5 separate regions of the Homo sapiens genome follow, and all the other regions are reported to be linked to region 4. The links are microRNA targets in miRTarBase. Many come from high-throughput screens and were not tested one by one. Region 4 holds a microRNA gene; each other region holds the end of a gene's coding sequence. Distances are from middle to middle.
Evidence for each region. Region 4 holds the annotated microRNA hsa-miR-888-3p (GACUGACACCUCUUUGGGUGAA, at 3,230-3,251, opposite strand). A microRNA usually pairs through its seed, bases 2 to 8, with sites in the 3' UTR of a target mRNA and lowers its output. Matches are read on the target gene's strand: a 7mer-m8 pairs with bases 2 to 8, a 7mer-A1 pairs with bases 2 to 7 and ends in A, and an 8mer does both.

Region 1 (4,248 bases), not on the chromosome of region 4:
AATCCCAGCACTTTGGGAAGCTGATGCAGGCGGATCACCTGAGATCAGGAATTCGAGACCAGCCTGGCCAACATGGTGAAACCCCGTCTCTACTAAAATACAAAAATTAGCCAGGCATGGTGGCACGTGCCTGTAATCCTGGCTACTTGGGAGGCTGAGGCAGGAGAATTGCCTGAACCCAGGAGGCAGAGGTTGCAGTGAGCCGAGGTTGTGCCACTGCACTCCAACCTGGGCCACAAGAGCAAAACTCCATTTCAAAAAAAAGAAAAAAGAAAAATGATTCAGTATTGCCCAGCCTGCATTCTTTGTCCATGACGCTGCTAGGTTGGAGATCCACTATCTAATAATTGCTCTAAAAAATCAATTTGGAAATGTTTTAAACACCTGCGTGTGTCTAGTCTGAGCTACCACAAAGCTTCTATCCTTTCTTCCCACAGTAGAGTCTCTCCCAGGTGGTTTCCAGGGACTCCCGTCCTCACTCTTGTCTCTGTCCCACAGGAAACGCCACCCCAGTGACCACCACTGCCCCGTGGGCCTCCCTGGGCCTCTCCGCCAAGACCTGCAACAACGTGTCCTTCGAAGAGAGCAGGATAGTCCTGGTCGTGGTGTACAGCGCGGTGTGCACGCTGGGGGTGCCGGCCAACTGCCTGACTGCGTGGCTGGCGCTGCTGCAGGTACTGCAGGGCAACGTGCTGGCCGTCTACCTGCTCTGCCTGGCACTCTGCGAGCTGCTGTACACAGGCACGCTGCCACTCTGGGTCATCTATATCCGCAACCAGCACCGCTGGACCCTAGGCCTGCTGGCCTGCAAGGTGACCGCCTACATCTTCTTCTGCAACATCTACGTCAGCATCCTCTTCCTGTGCTGCATCTCCTGCGACCGCTTCGTGGCCGTGGTGTACGCGCTGGAGAGTCGGGGCCGCCGCCGCCGGAGGACCGCCATCCTCATCTCCGCCTGCATCTTCATCCTCGTCGGGATCGTTCACTACCCGGTGTTCCAGACGGAAGACAAGGAGACCTGCTTTGACATGCTGCAGATGGACAGCAGGATTGCCGGGTACTACTACGCCAGGTTCACCGTTGGCTTTGCCATCCCTCTCTCCATCATCGCCTTCACCAACCACCGGATTTTCAGGAGCATCAAGCAGAGCATGGGCTTAAGCGCTGCCCAGAAGGCCAAGGTGAAGCACTCGGCCATCGCGGTGGTTGTCATCTTCCTAGTCTGCTTCGCCCCGTACCACCTGGTTCTCCTCGTCAAAGCCGCTGCCTTTTCCTACTACAGAGGAGACAGGAACGCCATGTGCGGCTTGGAGGAAAGGCTGTACACAGCCTCTGTGGTGTTTCTGTGCCTGTCCACGGTGAACGGCGTGGCTGACCCCATTATCTACGTGCTGGCCACGGACCATTCCCGCCAAGAAGTGTCCAGAATCCATAAGGGGTGGAAAGAGTGGTCCATGAAGACAGACGTCACCAGGCTCACCCACAGCAGGGACACCGAGGAGCTGCAGTCGCCCGTGGCCCTTGCAGACCACTACACCTTCTCCAGGCCCGTGCACCCACCAGGGTCACCATGCCCTGCAAAGAGGCTGATTGAGGAGTCCTGCTGAGCCCACTGTGTGGCAGGGGGATGGCAGGTTGGGGGTCCTGGGGCCAGCAATGTGGTTCCTGTGCACTGAGCCCACCAGCCACAGTGCCCATGTCCCCTCTGGAAGACAAACTACCAATTTCTCGTTCCTGAAGCCACTCCCTCCGTGACCACTGGCCCCAGGCTTTCCCACATGGAAGGTGGCTGCATGCCAAGGGGAGGAGCGACACCTCCAGGCTTCCGGGAGCCCAGAGAGCATGTGGCAGGCAGTGGGGCCTCTTCATCAGCAGCCTGCCTGGCTGGCTCCCTTGGCTGTGGGCAGGTAGCACGCCTGCTGGCAGAGGTACCTGGTGGCTGCCCTGTTCGCATCAGTGGCGATGACTTTATTTGCGGAGCATTTCTGCAAGCGTTGCCTGGATGCGGTGGTGCATTGTGGGCCCTCTGGGCTCCTGCCTCAGAATGTCAGTGAGCACCATGCTGGAGGTCACCCAGCACTGTGGCAGCGCCCAGGAGGGCATAGGGCAGCCTACCACCTCCAAGGGGGCAGGCGCCCTCATCTGGGGTTGGGTCTGTGCTGAGCTGGAGGGCCTCTAGGGAACCGTGGGGCAGGGTGGCCAGCTGCTGGCTCCCAGAGCGCAGCCCAGGCGTCCTCAACGGGGAGCCCCAAATGTCCACGCCCAGAACAACAGTTGGCAGGACAGGTGTGACACAGCCACAGCAGAGGCAAGGGGTGCCAGGAGTCCCCAGCGGCATCCTCGGGGAGATGCTGGTGAGGGGTCCGTACAGGGTGGGGTCCCCACCCCTAGCCCCTTACTGAGGGGGGAGTGCAGCAGTTGGCCTGCTTGTCTGGCGGAGAAAGCCAGCTCCCTGCACCCTCGGGGCTGAGTCAGATCTGGGTCTGCCGCAAAGGCCTTGCCTAGACCAGGTCACACTGATGCCCTGGTTTCCCTATCTGTAAAATGGGGCCAATGACACCTACCTCACTGGGTCACCATCGAGATCAATCCTCCTCCCTGCCCCGACACCTCGGGCACATCGCATGCACTCAGAGCACAGAGCCGGGCAGACGCAGCACCTGCATGGGGAGCCCAGTGCCCGGCACAGCACAGGGGCTTCCAGGGAGGCCGCGCAGGGCCGTGGGGCTGAGCCACGCTCTCGTTTTGTCAGGCAGCTATGCAGTTGCTCTTCCTTGTTTTTGTTTTGTTTTTGTTTTTGTTTTTAATATTTATTTTTTTAGAGACAGGGCCTTGCTCTGTTGCCTGGGCTGGAGAACAGTGGCACCATCATAGCTCACTGCAGCCTCAAACTCCTGGGCTCAAGCGATCCTCCCCGCTCAGCCTCCTGAGTAGCTGGGACTACAGGTGTGCACCACCACACCCAGCCAAAACAGCCATCCTCCCCTTGAGAGTCATCAGAAAAATACATTAGGAAAATGTGTTTAGAAATAAAAGCACAAGGCAGGGCAGTGCTCACGCCTGTCATCCCAGCACTTTGGGAGGCCGAGACGGGAGGATCAGTTGAGGTCAGGAGTTTGAGACCAGCCTCGGCAACATGGCAAAATCTTGTCTCTTTTTTTTGGTATTAAAAAAATCATAAAAATAAAAGAAATAATGCAATTTAACCTTCACAGTTAACATTTCTCCAATTTAACCTTCACAGTTAACATTTCTCCAATTTAACCTTCACAGTTAACATTTCTCCTGCCTTGAGAGGAGTGTGCCCCTAGGCTTCCAGAGGACAGCCGTGACCAGGGACTTGAAAAGTTGGGGCTGAGGTTCTGGACCAGTCTGGAATATTCAGGGCTGGGGCAAAAGGGATCATAACGATGTCCAGCAGGGGCTTTCCTGTGGCTGCTATAACCAGTTCCCACAAGTTGGTGGCTTAAAACAACAAACCGGGCTGGGCACCATGGCTCATGCCTATAATCCCAGCACTTTGGGAGGCCAAGGCGGGCAGATCACCTGAGGTCAGGAGTTCAAGACTAGCCTGGCCAACATGATGAAACCCCGTCTCTACTAAAAACACACACAAAAAAATTATCTGGGTGTGGTGGAGCACACCTGTAATCCCAGCTACTTCGGAGGCTGAGACAGGAGAATCGCTTGAACCCAGGAGGCAGAGGTTGCAGTGAGCTGCGATCGTGCCATTGCACTCCAGCCTGGGCAACAAGAGCAAAATTCCTTCTCAAAAAACAAAACAACAGCAACAACAAAAAAACACAACCAAAAACTGTTTACTCAGGCTGGGCGCGGTGGCTCACGCCTGTAATCCCAGCACTTTGGGAGGCCGAGGCGGGCGGATCACGAGGTCAGGAGATCAAGACCATCCTGGCTAACACAGTGAAACCCCTTCTCTACTAAAAATACAAAAAATTAGCCGGGCGTGGTGGCAGGCGCCTGTAGTCCCAGCTACTCGGGAGGCTGAGGCAGGAGAATGGCGTGAACCCAGGAGGCAGAACTTGCAGTGAGCCGAGATCGCGCCACTGCACTCCAGCCTGGGAGACAGAGCGAGACTCCATCTCAAAAAAAAAAAAACCACTGTTTTCTCACAGCTCTGAAGCCAGAGTCCACTTTTTCATCTTTTGCTGCCACACAGCAACAAATAAGAGCCTCGCTCCCACGTCAGATCCCAGCCTTGGGGACCGGGCGCCGTCTCACCCACCG
Region 2 (4,469 bases), not on the chromosome of region 4:
ACGTGTTAAAAATTACAAGGTCCCTTCTTGCACTCCATGGGTATAAATTCCTGTCTTCACGTCGGGCATGGTGGCTCACGCGTCATCCCAGCACTTTGGGAGGCCGAGGCGGGCGGATCACTTCAGGTCAAGAGTTCAAGACCAGCCTGGCCAACATGGTGAAACCCCCGTCTCTGCTAAAAACACAAAAATTAGCCAAGCGTGGTGGTGGGCGCCTGTAACCCCAGCTACTCGGGAGGCTGAGGCAGGAGAATCGCCTGAACCCGGGAGGCAGTGGTTGCAGTGAGCTGAGATCGTGCCACCACACTCCAGCCTGGGTGACAGAGAAGACCCTATCTCAAAAAATTAAAATAAATTATTATTTTCACCGATTTCACGGTTTGCTCAAGGTGTCTGTTCTCAAATGTTTGCTTGGGAGTTCAATTTTAAACTGCCTACAAATATTAAAAGATGTATGACTGCTCAGGAGAAAATGCTTTGCTAATTTGTATCTCCTGGGCCCTCATTTTTATTAGATCAAGTTCATTGGCTGTTGATTCAACACACTTTGGTTAAGCTCTTAATATGCACTGAGCATAGACATGACCAAGTCTGAGGATAGTCAGTATACTGTGTAAGTCCCACAGCACAATGCTGGGACTTGTCACAGTACAGAAATAAGGGGCAGGTGCAAAAAAAGGATCAATAGCCTGGGGCCGGGTGCTGCGGCTCACACCTGTACCCCAGCACTTTGGGAGGCCAAGGTGGGAGGATCGCTTGAGCCCAGAGTTTGAGGCCAGCCTGGGCAACAAAGCAAGACGCTGTCTCTAATTAAAAAGAAAGGAAAAAAAAATGGCCCGGGATGATCAAGAAATGTGGAAAAAGTGTCTGTGAAGAGTGTCAAAAAAGGTTAAGTAGGAAATGGTGAATGAACAATTAGATTATCACACAACCTAAATTAATAGCATGTGGATTGAGATTACACTGTAGCTAGACTCTGGAACAAATTATTCTTTAGAATGAGAAATCATTGCACAACCATAATAATGAACAGTGTTTTCTTCTTTTGACTGTAATCAAACTTTTAATTCTTAGTTTTTATTCTGGTAAATGAAAACAAAAAATAATCAAAAAGAATTTTTATTTGTCATTGACAGTTCAATATAAATTAAGTAAAACATTAATTCATTTATTCTGCACTATTATCAGAATTTTTCTAATTTTTCCGTAAAATGACCATTTCTAAACATATAGCTTAATGGTCAAAACAAGTGCAATAAAAGATTAATTTACAAGTATCAGAAGTGAAGACTGTGGTCCTATAACTCTTTCCCCCACCAAAGTTAAAATATAATTGTCATTCCAGGAAATCAAAATCTTTTAGAATAGCACACTCCAAACAAGTGATGGGAACACTACTAATTCCTTAGACTTCCTTTGGCAGCATTACTTTTGATAAGAAGTCTCCAAATAAAATACAAAATTTTGGCACAGACATTTTAATCTTGTCAAGACAATGTAAGGAAATGCCCCAAAATATTATTAAATTGACCATAATTACCAATATCAGTCCCTAAGATAATTTTTCTGAATGAAGAATTGTTTTTTTTGTTTGTTTGTTTTTAGGATTTTTTTTTTTTTTTTTTTTTTTTTTTTTGCCACACTGGTTTTTGTTAAGACCTCATCAGTCCTGGGTGCTTGCCCTCAATTCCTCCATAGCTATGTTAGCATATTTAATATCTTTTGCTATTAATCCTTAACTAGTTAATCCTTAAAGGGCTAGTTAATCCTTAACTAGTCCCTTCATTTTGTGCATTATCTTCCAGTATTCTCCTTCTCTTTTTTTACTTCTTCCCTGCTACCCATGTGCTCTTGGTGGGTAGTTACCAACATATACAGAATCTGCTTCCCTTTGCAGCATTTCATTTGCATAAAGACTGGATGGCACTGGTTTGCTCCATCTCTGATTATTGTGGCTGTTTTGAACTTTGTGAAAATACTCCCTTGGCACACATAAACAGGAAGACACACAAAGATATACACAATTTTTAGTAGAGGTGGGGTTTCACCATGTTGGCCAGGCTGGTCTTGAACTACTGACCTCCGGTGATCCACCATGCCTGGGCAAGCCCTGCTCCTGAGCCAGTCTTTGTTATTCATGTTAAGCTGAGGTTGCAGTGTGGCCCTCTTGAAGTGAAGACTGGTTGGTTGGGAGGAACTGAATTGTGAACAAAGAAGCTAGTTCAAATTTGCATAAATCATCCCTGCTATAGCTTAGATTCTCCTAGGTAGTAGTTTCTTTCAGAAGGAAAATGAGCTGTGCAGGTCATATGAGGGTCTTCTTATCCTATTATGATATCTCTAGTAACTCTGGCAGTAACAGAAGCAAAGTAAATCTGGACATGACAGACATTTAGACGAATCTGGCAGTACACTGAGTTTTAACTGGACACCAAGCAGGCAAGGCTGGAAGGTTTTGCTCTCTTTGTGCTAAAGGTTTTGAAAACCTTGAAGGAGAATCATTTTGACAAGAAGTACTGTGTAGTCTGCTGCAGTCTTCTCTTGGGTCCAACTGGCACTGCCTGTTAGTCTATTGGGAGGCCCAGCAGGTCACAACTGACGTCCCACAGCCGCCTTGCTATAGTCTCATTACGAGCTTGGGCAGAGACCCATGCCACATGACAGTCACTGGAAGGTAAAGAGAAAGGTATGAAGCACAGTGTTAAGAATGAAGTCTGCCATCTGCCAGGGATAAGGAATATGACATAAAAACAACTAGGGATCACATGTTCTCCATGTACTTCACAGGGCCAGTGTTTGTCCTTATCTCTTCATTCTCCAGTCCTTAGCCAGAGAAAATGTAATTACCATTTTAGATCTCCTCGCTAGACCACCTCTCATCAGAATGCTTTGTTTGATATATAATGCATACATTTGGTCTTTATATTCCCCTATTTATATAATTTAATATTAGTGCCTGCCTGACACCCATGTATATCCATCTTCTTCAAGTAAGTCCATAAGGCCCATTCTACAGAGCCTTGGACAATGTCATATAGCTGAGATCCTGCTATTCACATTGGTCAGAGATGCCTGGAGTAGTAAAAAAAAAAAAGAAATGCTTATTTCTGGACTCCTTGAAGTTATACTGTTAGTAAACTCATATGAGAAGTAAAGCCAGCTTCGAAAACAACAAAAGGAAAAGGCGACACAGAAAAGAAATGGTAAAACCAAGGTACGAGGTGTCTTGGTCCATTTTGTGGTACTGTAACAGAATACGACAAACTGGGTAACTATAATGAGCATACAGAAACTGGCTTATGATTATGGAAGCTGAGAAGTCCAAGATCAAGGGGCTGGCATCTGATGAAGGCCTTCTTGCTGTGTAATAACAAGATGGAAGGCATGACATGGGCAAGAGAGGGAAGGGGACACAAGTCATCCTTTAATAAGGAACCACTCCCAAGATAATGAACCCGTTCCAGAGATAATGGCATTAAACCATTCATGAGGGCTGCCCTTGTGACCTAATTTACCTCTTAAAGGCCCTGCCTCTCTATACTGTTGTATTGAGGCTTAAGTTTCCAACATATGAACCTTGAGGGACACATTCAAATCATAGCAAAGTGTTTCATATACCCTCTCTTCATTGCTGTAATTAATTCCAAGTTTTTTTTTTTTTTTTGGAGGCGGAGTCTCACTCTGTCGCCCAGGCTGGAGTGCAGTGATGCGATCTCAGCTCACTGCAACCTCCGCCTCCCAGGTTTGAGCAATTCTCCTGCCTCAGCCTCCAGAGTAGCTGGGATTATAGGCGCCTGCCACCATGACTGGCTAATTTTTGTATTTTTAGTAGAGACAGGGTTTTGCCATGTTGGCCAGGCTGGTCTCGAACTCCTGACCTCAAGTGATCCACCTGCCTCGGCCTCCCAAAGTGCTGGGATTACAGGCATGAGCCACTGCACCCAGCCTGTAATTCCAAGTTTTATAATTTTATAATTCCGATGCAGAAAATTTTCTTAAGGACAATTCTGACTCATTTTTGTATTCTCTGGATCTGGTATACATCTGGTAAGCATTCAGTCAAAGTTTTAAAAAAAATGATTGAATGTATTACAATCTTTAGTCATGTGAGGAAACAATTTTTAAAAGTATACTATTTCAAGAAAATTGCTTCCTCAGTATCTAAGCAAATTCTGAAGGTGAAAGAGTTGACAAGTCTGAATTAACTATATATGCAAACTCTTAACACTATGTCAAGTAAGACAGTGGGATTCAAAGTGTGCACCACAAACCAGCAGCAGGAGCATCAACTGGGAGCTTGTTAGAAATTCTCCAGCCCTACTCCAGACATACTGAATGAGAATCTCTAGGGTTGTGGTCCAGGAATCTATTTTCAACTAGTTTTCCAGATGACTCTTGAACACACTAAAGTTTGAGAAATACCATTTCAAAATATCGTCACGTTTACAAAACAAGTCTTATCAGTACTT
Region 3 (4,469 bases), 130 Mb from region 4:
CATGCGCCACCACACCCTGATAATTTTTATTTTTAGTAGAGATGGGGTTCTCCATGTTGGTCAGGCTGGTCTCGAACTCCCGACCTCAGATGACCTGCCCACCTCAGCCTCCCAAAGTGCTGGGATTACAGGCGTGAGCCACTGCGCCCGGCCTTCTGCCTTTAGCTTTGATGCACAATTACTTATTTTCAAATTTTTAAAAACTCATCAGATAATCCCCTAATGCAGAGACCTTTGAACACCGAAAAAAAAAAAAAATCAATGATCAACACATTAAAGTAAATGATTGCCTGTGAAAAAGGCAGCACCATTGTTTGTAATCCTCTTATTGACTCCCACCGTATCTTCTCCCTCTGCTTTGATGTCATCCTCCTCTCTGCCCTCCTTCCATGCACCTCACCTTTCTATTTTAGGTCTTGTAATTTCTATACCACATTTAGTCCCATAGTCCACAACCCCGTCCCCATTTCTTCACTGTTTGCTCATTCTGGCTTTAGAATAAGTTCAGGATCCCTTGGTAGTTGAAAGTGAGATATTGTTTCTTACATTTATGATCTTACTCTTCCATATCCTTCAGTATCTTCATGATTAGGCAGTTTAGTGAGTTTCTAACTGGGGCTATTTAATCAGTGTGGGTTCCCCAACCCTTGCCTTAGGTGGGTCTTAAAATGAACACTCACAACCTTCTCCTATATTCTTTTAGGCCTGATCTCCGTGGAAGAATTTCGTGCCATGTGGAAACTTTTTAGTTCTCACTACAATGTTCACATTGATGATTCCCAAGTCAATAAGCTTGCCAACATAATGGACTTGAACAAAGATGGAAGCATTGACTTTAATGAGTTTTTAAAGGCTTTCTATGTAGTGCATAGATATGAAGACTTGATGAAACCTGATGTCACCAACCTTGGCTAAACACAAATGAGAGCTTCCCTCAGGCTCCCTGAAACAGCTAGGCCCAAATCACAAGTACAGTCCTTTCCAACACCCCTGAAATTCATAGTCAGTAGCAGAGAAAAGCAGATCCCAATTCATCCCACAAACAGATGCATAGTATGGGTTTTGGAAGTCCCTAGCAAGCTGTTATTGGTAAGATTAGGTTAAATGTCAGTAATAGGATTTGGTTTCAGCATTAGTACCTACATATTGCCAGTGAGAAACTGGGTTGGACCTAGTGGTGTTGTCGTGAGTGCCACCTAACCAGGAGGCCAGAGCGGTTTGAAAACATCCTGAAAGGAACTCATACAGCACAAGAGAAAACTACTAAGCTTGACATCTGTGAGTGACTGAGGGAGACAGGAGGAATACCAGGTTATTCATGGAATAAAGTCTTTCCATCTTTAAACTGTGATCTTCTTTGGAGATTTTATAAGCCAGTGATCCTCAATTAAGGGATCCACCCTTCAGGGATGAGAACCATATTGGATTCTTGGGGGGAATCTGTGGGAGTGTATTGTTTGAAAAAGCGTATTTGTGTGTGTGTGTATGTTGGAGATACAAAGTGAATACACTTGGATTGAGCCCTATAATTAATATGGTTTGACACCTTCATTGGTAAGATGGGGCCTTGCTTATGCATACTGTTAAATGAAAATTGTAGGAGCCCATTGTTTTGGACTAAGCTCCTTCACCAGGCCCCAACAGACTAGACTAAAAGTCAAAATGGGGTCACCCATGCTGAGGTCCTGTGTCATCTCCGGCCAGCTTCAATTGGCATAATAATGAAGTTCCCTCTGCCTTACAACAAAAATAACCTGATGTTAACCAATCAATTATTTGTTTATTGTTATTTCCCTGCTGTCTTACAAGGAAGGTAACTTTGAAACAACCAGTCTGCTTTTTGTCCTTTGGTTCTGCTTTCTTCAGTTTTTCTCTGTCTATAAAACCAACCTCCTCTGCTCAGCTTATCAGAACACTTTATTTTTACAGAAGGAAGTGTTGCCTGATTCTAGAATCACAAACAAAGCCAGTTAAGATCTTTAAATGTTATCTTTTGACCAATCTGGTGACCATAAAAGGGACCATAAGGAGACTACTAATTACTCTTAAGGGCCTCTTGAGGAATGCAGGAGACGTGCTGCTGACCCCTTTCAGGTCCCCTGTCTTCCTCACAGAGTCCTAGGTGTTGTAAATAAGTTCCTTTTGTGCCAGACTCTGCTGTTTTTGCATTGAGACCCCTGAATTTTTTGGCCTTCAAATCCAAGGTAAATGCCAAGAGTGAGCATTTGACTTTGGAGTACTGCTATGATTTGAATATGGTGTGTCCCCTCTGAAACTCATGTTAAAATTTTATTGCCATTTTGGCCATTTTGGGAGGTGGGGTCTTTAAGAGGGATTAGTGCCTTTCTCATGGGAGTAAGTTAGCAATTAAAGAAGTTCAGCCCCCTTTTCTCTGGTGTGTGAGTGCTCTCTCTCCCCTGCTCCTTTCACTTTTCCACCATGCTATAAAACAGCATGAGGGCCTCACTGGATGCAGCCACCCAATCTTGGACTTCCCAGCCTCCAGAACCATGAGCTAAATAAACCTCCATTCTTTATAAATTACCCAGTTGCAGGTTTTCTGTTATAGCAACACAAAACAGACTAAAACAAATACCAAGGGTTTGTGCCATAAGAGGACACATGGCTTTTGGGTTTGCAGTGGATGATGAGTCACCGGCAGGGGCTGCAGTTTCAAAGGTAACTGACAGTAGTTGCAGTAACTGACTGTTACTGTAGGAGTGAGCCTGGCTTTCAGAATTCACAGCTATCTATCCACTTTATTTCTTCTCTTCTTGTGTGCTGAGGTAAGAAAAATCATTAGCTAAGTTAAAGGGATTTCAGAGCCAAAACCAACTTTGCTCTGAGAGACCCAAGTTCCAACATAAAAATAGGATCCTTAATTTCTAAAGAACTGAGTACTCTTGGCTTTAGGCTGCCCCTTTGTTAGTGGTTCTTTCCCTCCCATGGACAGCTATAGGTTTCCTATTTGTCATGTTTTTGTGTTCTGAGAACTTGGTCAACCAACCAAAAGGTTGGGAGTTGCCAAGAATATGGCTAGACAGAAATGTGGGTTGCACCTTATTTGTGACTAGCATACTGACTGTTATGTCTAAATCTTTCTTTCTTTTGGCTGTCTTTGGTATTCTGGATTTTGATCTAGAAAGATTAATAAGAAACATAATGGACACCCCAAGTTCTAATGCATGCAAATATAGTCCCCCTTTAGGGACTCCAGACAGCTATGTATTCAAACATTATGGTCCATTCTTGTGCACGTTTTTAAACCTATGGGCAGATTATACCAAAGACTTGGCCAGGCACGGTGGTTCACGCCTGTAATCCCAGCACTGTGGGAGGCCGAGACAGGTGGATCACTTGAGGTTAAGAGTTTGAGACCAGCCTGACCAACATGGTGAAACCCTGTCTCTACTAAAAATACAAAATTAGCCCAACATGGTGGTGCACACCTGTAATCCCAGGTACTCGGGAGGCTGAGGCAGGAGAATCACTTGAACCCAGGAGGCAGAGGTTGCAGTGAGCCAAGGTCACACCATTGCACTCCAGCCTGGGCAACAAGAGTGAAACTCCATCTCAAAAAAAACAAAAACAAAAAAAGATTATACCAAGGACCATTTGGAGTTCCAGTGGTCTTTATGTGGACTGTTCAAGCCTCCCAAGGTTGTTTTTATTCTTTTATTTTTTTTATTTTTATTTTTTGAGAGGGAGTCTCGCCCTGTCTCCCAGGCTGGAGTGCAATGGTGCAATCTCGGCTCACTGCAACCTCTGCCTCCCGGGTTCAAGCAATTCTCCTGCCTCAGCTTCCCGAGTAGCTAGGATTACAGGCGCGCACCACCACGCCTGGCTGATTTGCATCTTTAGTAGAGACGGAGTTTCACCATGTTGGCCAGGCTGGTCTCGAACTCCTGACCTCGTGATCCACTCGCCTCAGCCTCCCAAACTGCTGGGATTACAGGCGTGAGCCACCACGCCCAACCTCTTTTTATTCTTAGAACTAAATTAGCAGACTGTAGCTATAGGGTTAAAGTCTGAATGGGATGTATATAATTGATTAGCATGTAGAGGCTTCTAAGCTCTCTTTCTCTCTGTCCTCCCCTGCCTACTTAGAATCTGCTGACATTTTTGCTTGGTTACCTGCCCAGGATTCCAAAATAGCCTTTTTAAAAGCTTCATTGCAAAGAGCTAATGAAAGGCTAGAAATGGAAGATATCCCCCACACCAAGGATGGTAAAACTGATGTAACTCCTACTGCTCCTCTCTATCCTACTTTGCCTGAATATTTAGTCTATTAATACTCTGTCTGAATTGCCCTTCTTCTGTGAAAAAAAAAAAAAAAAAAAAAAAAAAAAAAAACAGTTAAACAGTTTCCTTGTAGCATAAAACCATCTGAAAATTCAGGAGACAATCCTGGAGTGATTTACATTGCCTGGATAAAAACAGCTCAGGGCCATAGGTTAAAAATTTTGCAA
Region 4 (4,469 bases):
CGGTAGAAGGGGAAGCAAACACGTCCTTCTTTACATGGCGGCAGGAATGAGAAGTGTTGAGCAAAGCGGGTGAAAGCCCCTTATAAAACCATCAGATCTTGTGAGAACTCACTATCATGAGATCAGCAGCATGGGAGTAACCGCCCCCATGATTCAATTACCTCCCACTGGGTCCCTCCCATGACACATGGGGATTATGGGAACTATGATTCAAGGTGAGATTTGGGTGGGGACACAGCCAAACCATATCAGACACCTTTCTGGGAATAGCCCTGAACACAGCATGGTCGAAAGGGGAAGTGCTGCCCCATCTTGCATTTTCATACCCTGCAGCTTTCATCACTCCTCTGAGCACGGTATGATGCCTGAATCCTGAACTTATTTATTCATCAGTTCAAAATAATGCCCAGCCCACAAGCCCCCAACTTGCATGTCTCCCTCAGTGCCCTCTCACCTGCTCTATGTTTACCTGGATGATTGCCCAGACCAGGAGAAAACAAGCTTGTTCCCGTTTTCTATTCTTCAACTAGGAAGTATCTTCATCTCTTCTATCACTTTCTTCTTTAACATGATGGAGTCTACATCATTAGGAATGCACCAGTAGAATTATCTTGAGGATGCCTGAGGTCCATGTGGCCAAATAGGATCTCCTGGCATCAGGGAAGGCAGCTCAAGGCCCTTGGAACTCCACATCAGGGGTCTACAGGCAACTATATGCTTGTACTTGGTAAGCCTTAGTCCACTCAGAGAGGAACTAGTTACATATAATCTAAGTGACTGGCACCTTTCTGGAACATATTATGGACGAATGGGGAGGGGCTACTCCATCGTGCAATGTGAATCCCCATCCTAGAGAATGTCCAGCCCACTGCCCTCCATCATGTATGTTTCCCTCAGCAAGAGCACTCTCACTTGGCTTCATGTTTACCCAGATGGTTGCCAGGACCACGAGAGAACAAGCTTGTTTTTCTGTTCTTCTATTAGGAAGTATCTTCACGTCTTCTATCCTTCTCTTCTCTATCATATAGGTATTCTCATTATTAGGAATGAACCACTGAAATCATCTAGAGGATGTCTGAGGTTCAGGTGGCCAGCTAGGATCTCCTGGCATCATTGAAGACAACTTAGGGCTCCAGCAACTCCAACTCATCGCCTGTCTGAAGACCACCACACACTTGTACTTGGTAAGCCCTACTCCACTCAGAAAGGAAACAGTGACATGTAATCTAAGTGACTGGCACCTTTCTGAATAGGGCACTGCCCACAGCACGACTGATAGTGGAGGTGCTGCCCCATCACCCACCATCACGCACTGCAGGTTTCATCACTCCCCTCAACACAGCAGGCTGCCTGAGCCCTGAACACATTTATTAAGTCCTAGAGAAGTTCCAGCCCACTGCCCTCCAACTTGGCATGCCTGCCTCAATGAAGACCTTCTCACTTGATTTATGTTTCCCTGGATGATGGCCAAGACGAGAAGAAAAAAAATCTTGTTCCCGTTCTCTCTTCTTCTTTTAGGAAGTATCTTTATCTCTTCTATTATTACCTTATCTAACCTGTAGGTGCTCACATTGTTAGAAATGGATCATTAAAATCATCTTGAGGATCCCTGAGTTCCAGGTGGCTTCCAAATCTCTCCTGGGATCAATGAAGGCAGTTGAAGGTGCTTGCAGGTCTGTCTCCTCACCAATCTGAACGCCATCACAAAATTGTACCTGGAGAATCTTGCTCTACCCAGAAAGGAGCTGGAAACATCTAATCTAAGTGACTGACCCCTTTTGGAGTAGGGCACTGCCCACAACATGGCTAATTGTGGGGGTGCTGTCCCATCTTGCATGTTCTCCCCCTGTAGCTTCCATCACTCCTGAGCACAGCATGATGCCTGAACCCTGAATTTATTTATTCAACAGTCCTGGATCATGTCTAACCCACTGCCCTCCAATGTACATGCCTCCCTAAATGAGGAACCCCTCACCTGCTCTATGTTTACCTGGGTGATCGCCAAGACCAGGAGAAAGCAAGATTGTTCTCATTCTATTTTTCTAGTAGGAATTATCTTCATCTTGTCTTTCTCATCTATAACCTGCATGTGTTCATGTTGTTAGGGACAGACGATTTAGAATATCTCGACGATGCCTGAGGTCCACATGGCCAACTAAGGTCTCCTGGTATCAGGAAAGGTACCTCAAGGCTCTTGAAACTCCACCCTATCATGGGTCCAAAGGCCACTACAAACTTATACTTGTTGAGCCTTACACTACCAAGGAAGAAACCAGTGATGTATAATCTAGGAAACTGGCACATTTCTAAGTAGGACACTGCACACAGCATGTCTGATAGCGGAGGTGCTGGCCCATCTTGCAAGGTCAACCCCCGTCCAGGAGAATGTCCAGTCTGCTGCCCTCCATGACGCATGTCTCACTCAATGAGACATGCTCACTGCTCCATATTTGCCCAGATGGTTGCCAGGACCATGAGAGAACAAGCTCGTTTTCTGTTCTTCTATTAGGAAGTATCTTCATTTCTTCTATCTTTCTATTCTCTGAAAAATAGGTATTTCCATTGTTAGAAATGCATCATTGAAATCACCTTGAGAACACCTAAGGTTCAGGTGGCCAGCTAGGATCTCCCGGCCTTACTGAAGACAACTAAAGCCTCCAGCAACTCCACTGCATCACCTGTCCGAAGGTCACCATGAACTTGTACTTGGTAAGACTTACTCTACTCAGAAAGGGAATAGTTACATGTAATCTAAGCAACTGATGCCTTTCCAAGTAGGGCACTTCCCACAGCATGTCTGATTGTAGAGGTGCTGCCCCATCATCCACCATCGTGCACTGCAGCTTTCATCACCCCACTCAACACAGCAGGATGCCTGAACCCTGAACTTAATCTTAATTCCTAGAGAATTTCCAGCCCACTGCCCTCCAACTTGGCATGCCTGCCTCAGTGACGACCTTCTTATCTGATTTATGTTCACCTGGATGATGGCCAAGACAAGAAAAGATTGTTCCTGTTTTCTCCTTTTAGGAAGTAACTATCTTTTCTGTCATTGCCTTCTCTAATTTGTAGGTGCTCACGTTGTTAGAAATGATCATCTTGACGATGCCTGAATTCCAGGTGGTTTCCAAGGTTCTCCTGGGATCAATGAAGGCAGCTCAAGTTGCTTGCAGGTCTACCCCCTCACCAGTCTGAGGACCACCACAAAAGTGTACTTGGTGAGCCTTCCTTCACCCAAAGAGGTGTCAGTCACATGTAATCTAAGTGACTGACAGCTTTTTGAGTAGAGCACTGCCCACAACATGGCTAATTGTGGAGGTGCTGTCGCATCTTGCGTGTTCTCCACCTGTAGCTTCCATCACTCCTCTGAGCACAGCATGATGTCTGAACCCTGAACTTATTTATTCATCAGTCCTGGATCATGTCTAGCCCACTGCCCTCCAAGGTATATGCCTCCCTAAGTGAGGAATCTCTCACCTACTCTATGTTTATCTGGATGATTGCCAGGACCAGAAGAGAGCAAGATTGTTCCCATTTTCTATTTTTCTAGTAGGAATTATCTTCATCTTGCCTTTCTGATCTATAACCTGTAGGTGCTCATGTTGTTAGGGACAAGCCACTTAACTTATCTTGAGGATGCCTGAGGTCCACATGGCCAACTAAGATCTGCTGGTCTCAGGGAAGGTACCTGAAGGCTCTTGCAACTCTACACTATCATGGGTCCAAAGGCCACTACAAACTTATACTTGGTGTGCCTTACTCTACCTGGAAAGGAACTAGTGACATATAATCTGGGCGACTGACACATTTCTGGGCAGGGCACTGCACACAGCATGGCTGATTGTGGAGGTACTGCCCTATCTTGCACAGTTATACCCTACAGCTTTCACCACTCCCCTCAACACAGCATGGCGCCTGAACCCCGAACTTAACTTATTCATAAGTCCCAAAGAATACCCAGCTCATTGCCCTTCAACTTGCATGCTTCCTTCAGTGAGTACCCTCTCATCTGCTTTGTTTAGCCAGATAATTACCAAGACCAGTAGTGAACACACTTTTTCCAGATTTCTCCTCTTCTACAAAACATATATTGATCTTTTATCTTTTGCTTCCTTAACACATAAGTGCTCATATTGTTTGGTGTGCACCATCGAAATCATCTTGAGGATGCCTGAGGTCCACGTGACCAACTAGGATCTTCTGGCATTCGAGAAGGCAGTTGAAAGGCCCCTGACGCTCCACTGCATCAGGAGTCCAAAGGCCAGCCAAAAGTTGTGTTTGGTGATATTACTCCACCCAGAAAGGAACCAGTTACATATAATCCAAGTGACTGGAACTGTTCTAGAAAAGGCACTGCATACATTATGGCTGAATACGGAGGTGCTGCCCAGTCTCGCATGGTTGCTCCCAGCAGCTTTCATCACTCTCCTAAACGCAACAGAATGCCTGAACCCTGATCTCATTTATTC
Region 5 (4,360 bases), not on the chromosome of region 4:
AAGAACTTTACAAATAGAATCCTGTACTACTGAGGCTCTTTTGAGTGTTTTTCTCTTAAGATGATAATGGAAAGTCACTTCTTAAAAAAGTGACAGAATCACTTCTATTTAGCTAAATTTTTACTCTCAACTCCAGTAAGTCTATATAGAACATATTTTATTATAATCTGTATTCATTTGTTTAACTTCTTTTCTTTTTAGTGGAGTTGGATCACAGGATTGATTTTGAACTCAGAGAAGGCCTTGTGGAGAGCCGCTATTGGTCAGCTGTCACGTCGCATACTGCCTATTGGTCATCCTTGGATGTTGCCCTTTTTCTTTTAACCTTCATGTATAAACATGAGCACGATGATGATGCAAAACCCAATTTAGATCCAATCTGAACTCTCTTGAAGGACATGAATGGCCTAAAACTGATTTTTTTTTTTTCCGTTAAAATGTGTGTGTCAAGATACGGAGATTTCAGGGTTAAAGTATATTTCAGTTTTCTTTAGGGCAACATATATTTGAATTTAAAAGCACTTTATTTAAAAAAAAAAGAAGTTTTCAGTTCTGAAGAAGTCATTTACAGTTTGCATCATTTTAATTATGAGTCTGACAAAACCTTCTCCAGAGAATCAAGCAAGACCTGGATGTGAAGAAGGTTTGGGTAAACTGCATGTAAAGGCTACAAATCACAATCTGATTCCTCCCAAATATAAAGGCATATGGAACATAATGTATTAACCAAAGTATGTTATAAATCAAAAATGGTCAAGGTTCAGCATATTCTATATGAAGATCACAAGGTGGTATCGTTTTAGATTTCTATGAAGGCTTTCATTTGTACATCCCTTTGAAAAAATATAACAGATTTAAAATGTTTTGAATTTAACTTGTTTAGAAAAACTAATGCTTAAAACAATATTTGAACTACTGTATTTATAATTTATTACCTCTAATTGCTTTATTTCAGTGTATGAGACATTACTGTTTTAATGTTTGCTTTGAACATAATTTAAGAACCAGATTTATTTTCTATAGTGATAAACCCTTTTTTCTCAGAACTCCATCTTTGTACTCTTCAGATGAATATATAGACACTGTGGCATACATTTTTTTTCATTAAAAACTTATGGCTTCATACAACACTAGTTCAATTTTTTAAATAAACTTTTTATTATGTTACATGTACTTCAGAGAAAGCTAAAGTTTCTCTAAACTTGACACGGAGTACTCCATAATGGGTACATTTCATTAGCTTTATTAGAAAACTAGTAAATGCTTTTGAATAGGTAGTATGACAGCTATTTTAAATGTATAAACATTTGTGTGCCAAACAACATATATGAAGGGATGTGATGCCACTAACTAGTGCACATTGTTTCTCAATGTGCCATTGAGACACAAGGCACAGTAAGTCAGGATTCTGAGGCATTGGAAGGGTTTTCTTCAGCTGTAATTGTTTCCACAGTGCTTTTCATCTGAGGGGCTCAAAGTTTAAGAGTGCATTCAATAACCCATGTACTAGCTTCTTGAGGTAAGTAAATAAATCTTGTTCTCATGTTACATGTTAATACACCAAGGCACCAAAACATTTAAAGTGCCATGAATTAGATTACATCAGAAATCAGAAAAGCTTGGATTGAGCTAGTCACCGTGGTTCACGCCTGTAATCCCAACACTTCGGGAGGCCAAGATGGGAGGATCTCTTGAGCCCAGGATTTCAAGACCAGCTTGGGCAACATAGTGAGACCCTCTTCTCTGCAAAAACTGACAAAAATTAGCCACTTGTAGTGGTGTACACCTGTAGTCCCAGCTACTCAAGAGGCTGAGGTGGGAGGATCACCCGAGCCCAGAAGTTCAAAGCTGCAGTGAGCTCTGATCACACCAATGCACTCCAGCCTGGGTGACAGAGCCAGACCCTGTCTCTAAAAAACAAAAAAGAAAAGCTTGGGTTGAAGCCAGGCCATATTCTTTTATATGCTGTTCAATGACTTGATTCACATGTGACCTTTTAGTAGTTTGCAAACAATAATAACAGAAGTTGCAATTCATAATTCAGAGAAATGACCATGAAGCCGGTGTTTCCCTGCTTGATTTCTATGTTCTTGGATTCTCACACAAAAGAGGAGTTACCTAGAGGGGATCAGTAGCCATCCCTGTTGCACACAACCCTCACTTCTGAGTGGTTTCCACTAGGTTCCACTTAAGGTGCTGTCTTTTCTTAACTTGCAAGGAATTGCTTAGCTTCCCAATAATCATTGTCAAACTGGGAGCAAAGTTGGTCAGCTGTATCTCTCACCTCCTCCTTTCTTCATAAGATAGTAGAATCTGTGGCTTACTTGTAGGTTTTACTTAGTGCTTCAGTACTGTTGGCTGTTTTGGCCTTTTGCTGAATTTGCACAACAACATAAAGCACTTCTTTTTAATGTTTAAAAAAAATTCCAAGGCTCCATGACCAAGTATGTGACTCACTAAGAAACCCTTGCTATAAAAGGCTTTTGATGAAATCTTAGCAAAGCTAAATTATCTCTAACTTAGAGATTCCTATGAACTCAGGTCATTTTCATAGCCTGTTTATTTTGTAGGTCTAATTTAGTTCTCAGGAAAATTAAACTCATGCTATATGACTGTATCGTTAAAGGTACTTGAGCGTATGTTGCTGTAGGTGGTATGACACTCAAATGCATAAGAACTTGAAGGGATTTATTCTTAACCACTAGAATATGAAGAGCCCTTTTTACCTGAGAAGAGTGAAATTATGTCAGACCTTTTAATTTGATATCACTGAGTAAAAGGTATGTTCCTATAGCCATAGGAATATGTCTGCTTCCTTTTTTTCATGTTGAGAAAACAGTCAAATTTAACCATTTGGAGTTTATTTGAATTCTTGGAAAGAGCAATATTCAAAACCTTTTCAAAAATAAGATATTCTGGACTACTGGATGGATGTTTTGTTTTCAGTTCATTTTTCATCAGTAGAGATGGTGATTTCGGTTTTGTAGTATCCTTGTTTCTATGTCTGTGCATGTTAACATTGGATGTATTTGTATATACTTAATTAATATACAGACTGTGTGTCATTCTGGCTTGATTAGAAGCTAAGTCAGTTACTGAGTAACATTTTGCAACTTTATTCCAGCAAGTACTAAATCGGCCAAAAAAAGTTTTGTTTTTGATACCATTAAAATTTTATTCTCTATTTTGTGTACATGCTATGATGATTCTCCCAAGTACTGATTAGATCACTGAACTTTAGTTAGCTTCCCAAGAATTATTAACCGTTAGAATAAGACTTAGATTAAATCTTGCTTTATTTTTACTTTAAAATTAGTCTTGCTAAGGCCTTATGTTAGTTCATACTTTCTTTTCAACAGTAATCTTGTTTATAATCCAGTGTTTCTGTGTTTTAGGACATAATTTAAAAATATACTGGATTTTGGCCAGGTGTGGCAGCTCATGCCTGTAATCCCAGCACTTTGGGAGGCCAAGCAGGGAAGATTACTTGAGCCCAAGAGTTGAAAACCAACCTGGACAACATGGTGAAACCCAGACTCTACAAAAAATGCAAAGATTAGCTGGGTGTGTTGGCAGACGCCTGTGGTCCCAGCTACTCAGGAGGCTGAGGTCGGTAGGACTGCATGATTCCGGGAGGTCAAGGCTTCAGTGAGCCAAGATTGCACCACTGCACTCCACCTTGGGTGACAGAGCTGGACACTGTATCCAAAAAAAAAAAGTATGTATTTACACACACACACACACACACACACACACACTGGATGTTCTAATAACTGCTCTTTTGTATGTGAAGCAAGCCTTAGGAATCTTACGTTTTACTTCTTTCTGTTAAACGGCATCTGTTATCTTTTGAAGTACTCACACTGAACATGCTTCATGCTGAATACTCACGCTAAAGGCCTCAGACATGTAAACATTCATCCTTAGTCTCTTTTTTCTCTGTTTTCTCATTGGGAGCTGAAGCATCCTAGTCTGCAGAAAATTTAACACACCATATTCCAGCTTTGCATCACCTAGACAGTAGACAAAAGGAAAAGAAATTGTCAGTACCGTATCACAGCTAGTGCCTCTGTTCATTCCAGTGATAGTACATGAGCCCCTTCCAGTGGAGTCAGATCAAGCCAAAAGATTTTCCTGTAAAGTCTGTAGTAGAAGACAAATTTCTTTTTGATCCATTAGATTGGTATTTCTATCTTCTCAGCTAATTAATGAGTAAGGCATGTGGACAATCGAGAAAACTAATTTGAGTGTATGTATTAAAATTGCTCTTCTAAAAACACGTAAAATATTAAAGATCAAGGCAGAGCAAAAAAGAACGTAGCAATCATATACTAGAAAAAGAAACTAAGTTTTGCTAAAC

Region 1: the mRNA of GPR132 is a reported target of hsa-miR-888-3p. Seed matches in the 3' UTR shown: 7mer-m8 at 2,046-2,052.
Region 2: the mRNA of RDH11 is a reported target of hsa-miR-888-3p. Seed matches in the 3' UTR shown: 7mer-A1 at 2,074-2,080.
Region 3: miRTarBase lists PPEF1 as a target of hsa-miR-888-3p. Seed matches in the 3' UTR shown: 7mer-A1 at 1,003-1,009 and 8mer at 1,106-1,113.
Region 5: miRTarBase lists DDHD1 as a target of hsa-miR-888-3p. Seed matches in the 3' UTR shown: 8mer at 4,042-4,049.

What each region holds. Positions count from the first base shown.
Region 1 is chr14:105,048,353-105,052,600 of GRCh38, reverse strand. It overlaps GPR132 (G protein-coupled receptor 132), which reads left to right. Exons shown (of 4, transcript NM_013345.4): 4 at 499-3,206. The coding sequence ends at 1,607. All of the region lies in intron 1 of LOC124903398 (a long non-coding RNA gene), which reads right to left. Among named protein-coding and RNA genes, the nearest start is that of GPR132, 15 kb to the left of the region's middle.
Region 2 is chr14:67,675,757-67,680,225 of GRCh38, forward strand. RDH11 (retinol dehydrogenase 11) reads right to left here. Exons shown (of 7, transcript NM_016026.4): 7 at 1,044-2,667. The coding sequence ends at 2,565. It also overlaps a transcript of GPHN not described here. Among named protein-coding and RNA genes, the nearest start is that of VTI1B, 3.4 kb to the left of the region's middle.
Region 3 is chrX:18,826,573-18,831,041 of GRCh38, forward strand. It overlaps PPEF1 (protein phosphatase with EF-hand domain 1), which reads left to right. Exons shown (of 16, transcript NM_001377996.1): 16 at 704-1,345. The coding sequence ends at 915. Among named protein-coding and RNA genes, the nearest start is that of PHKA2-AS1, 61 kb to the right of the region's middle.
Region 4 is chrX:145,991,565-145,996,033 of GRCh38, forward strand. MIR888 (microRNA 888) reads right to left here and starts at 3,296; the gene lies at 3,220-3,296. MIR890 (microRNA 890) reads right to left here and starts at 2,787; the gene lies at 2,711-2,787. MIR892C (microRNA 892c) reads right to left here and starts at 1,262; the gene lies at 1,186-1,262.
Region 5 is chr14:53,042,791-53,047,150 of GRCh38, reverse strand. DDHD1 (DDHD domain containing 1) reads left to right here. Exons shown (of 13, transcript NM_001160148.2): 13 at 202-4,360. The coding sequence ends at 383. Among named protein-coding and RNA genes, the nearest start is that of FERMT2, 94 kb to the right of the region's middle.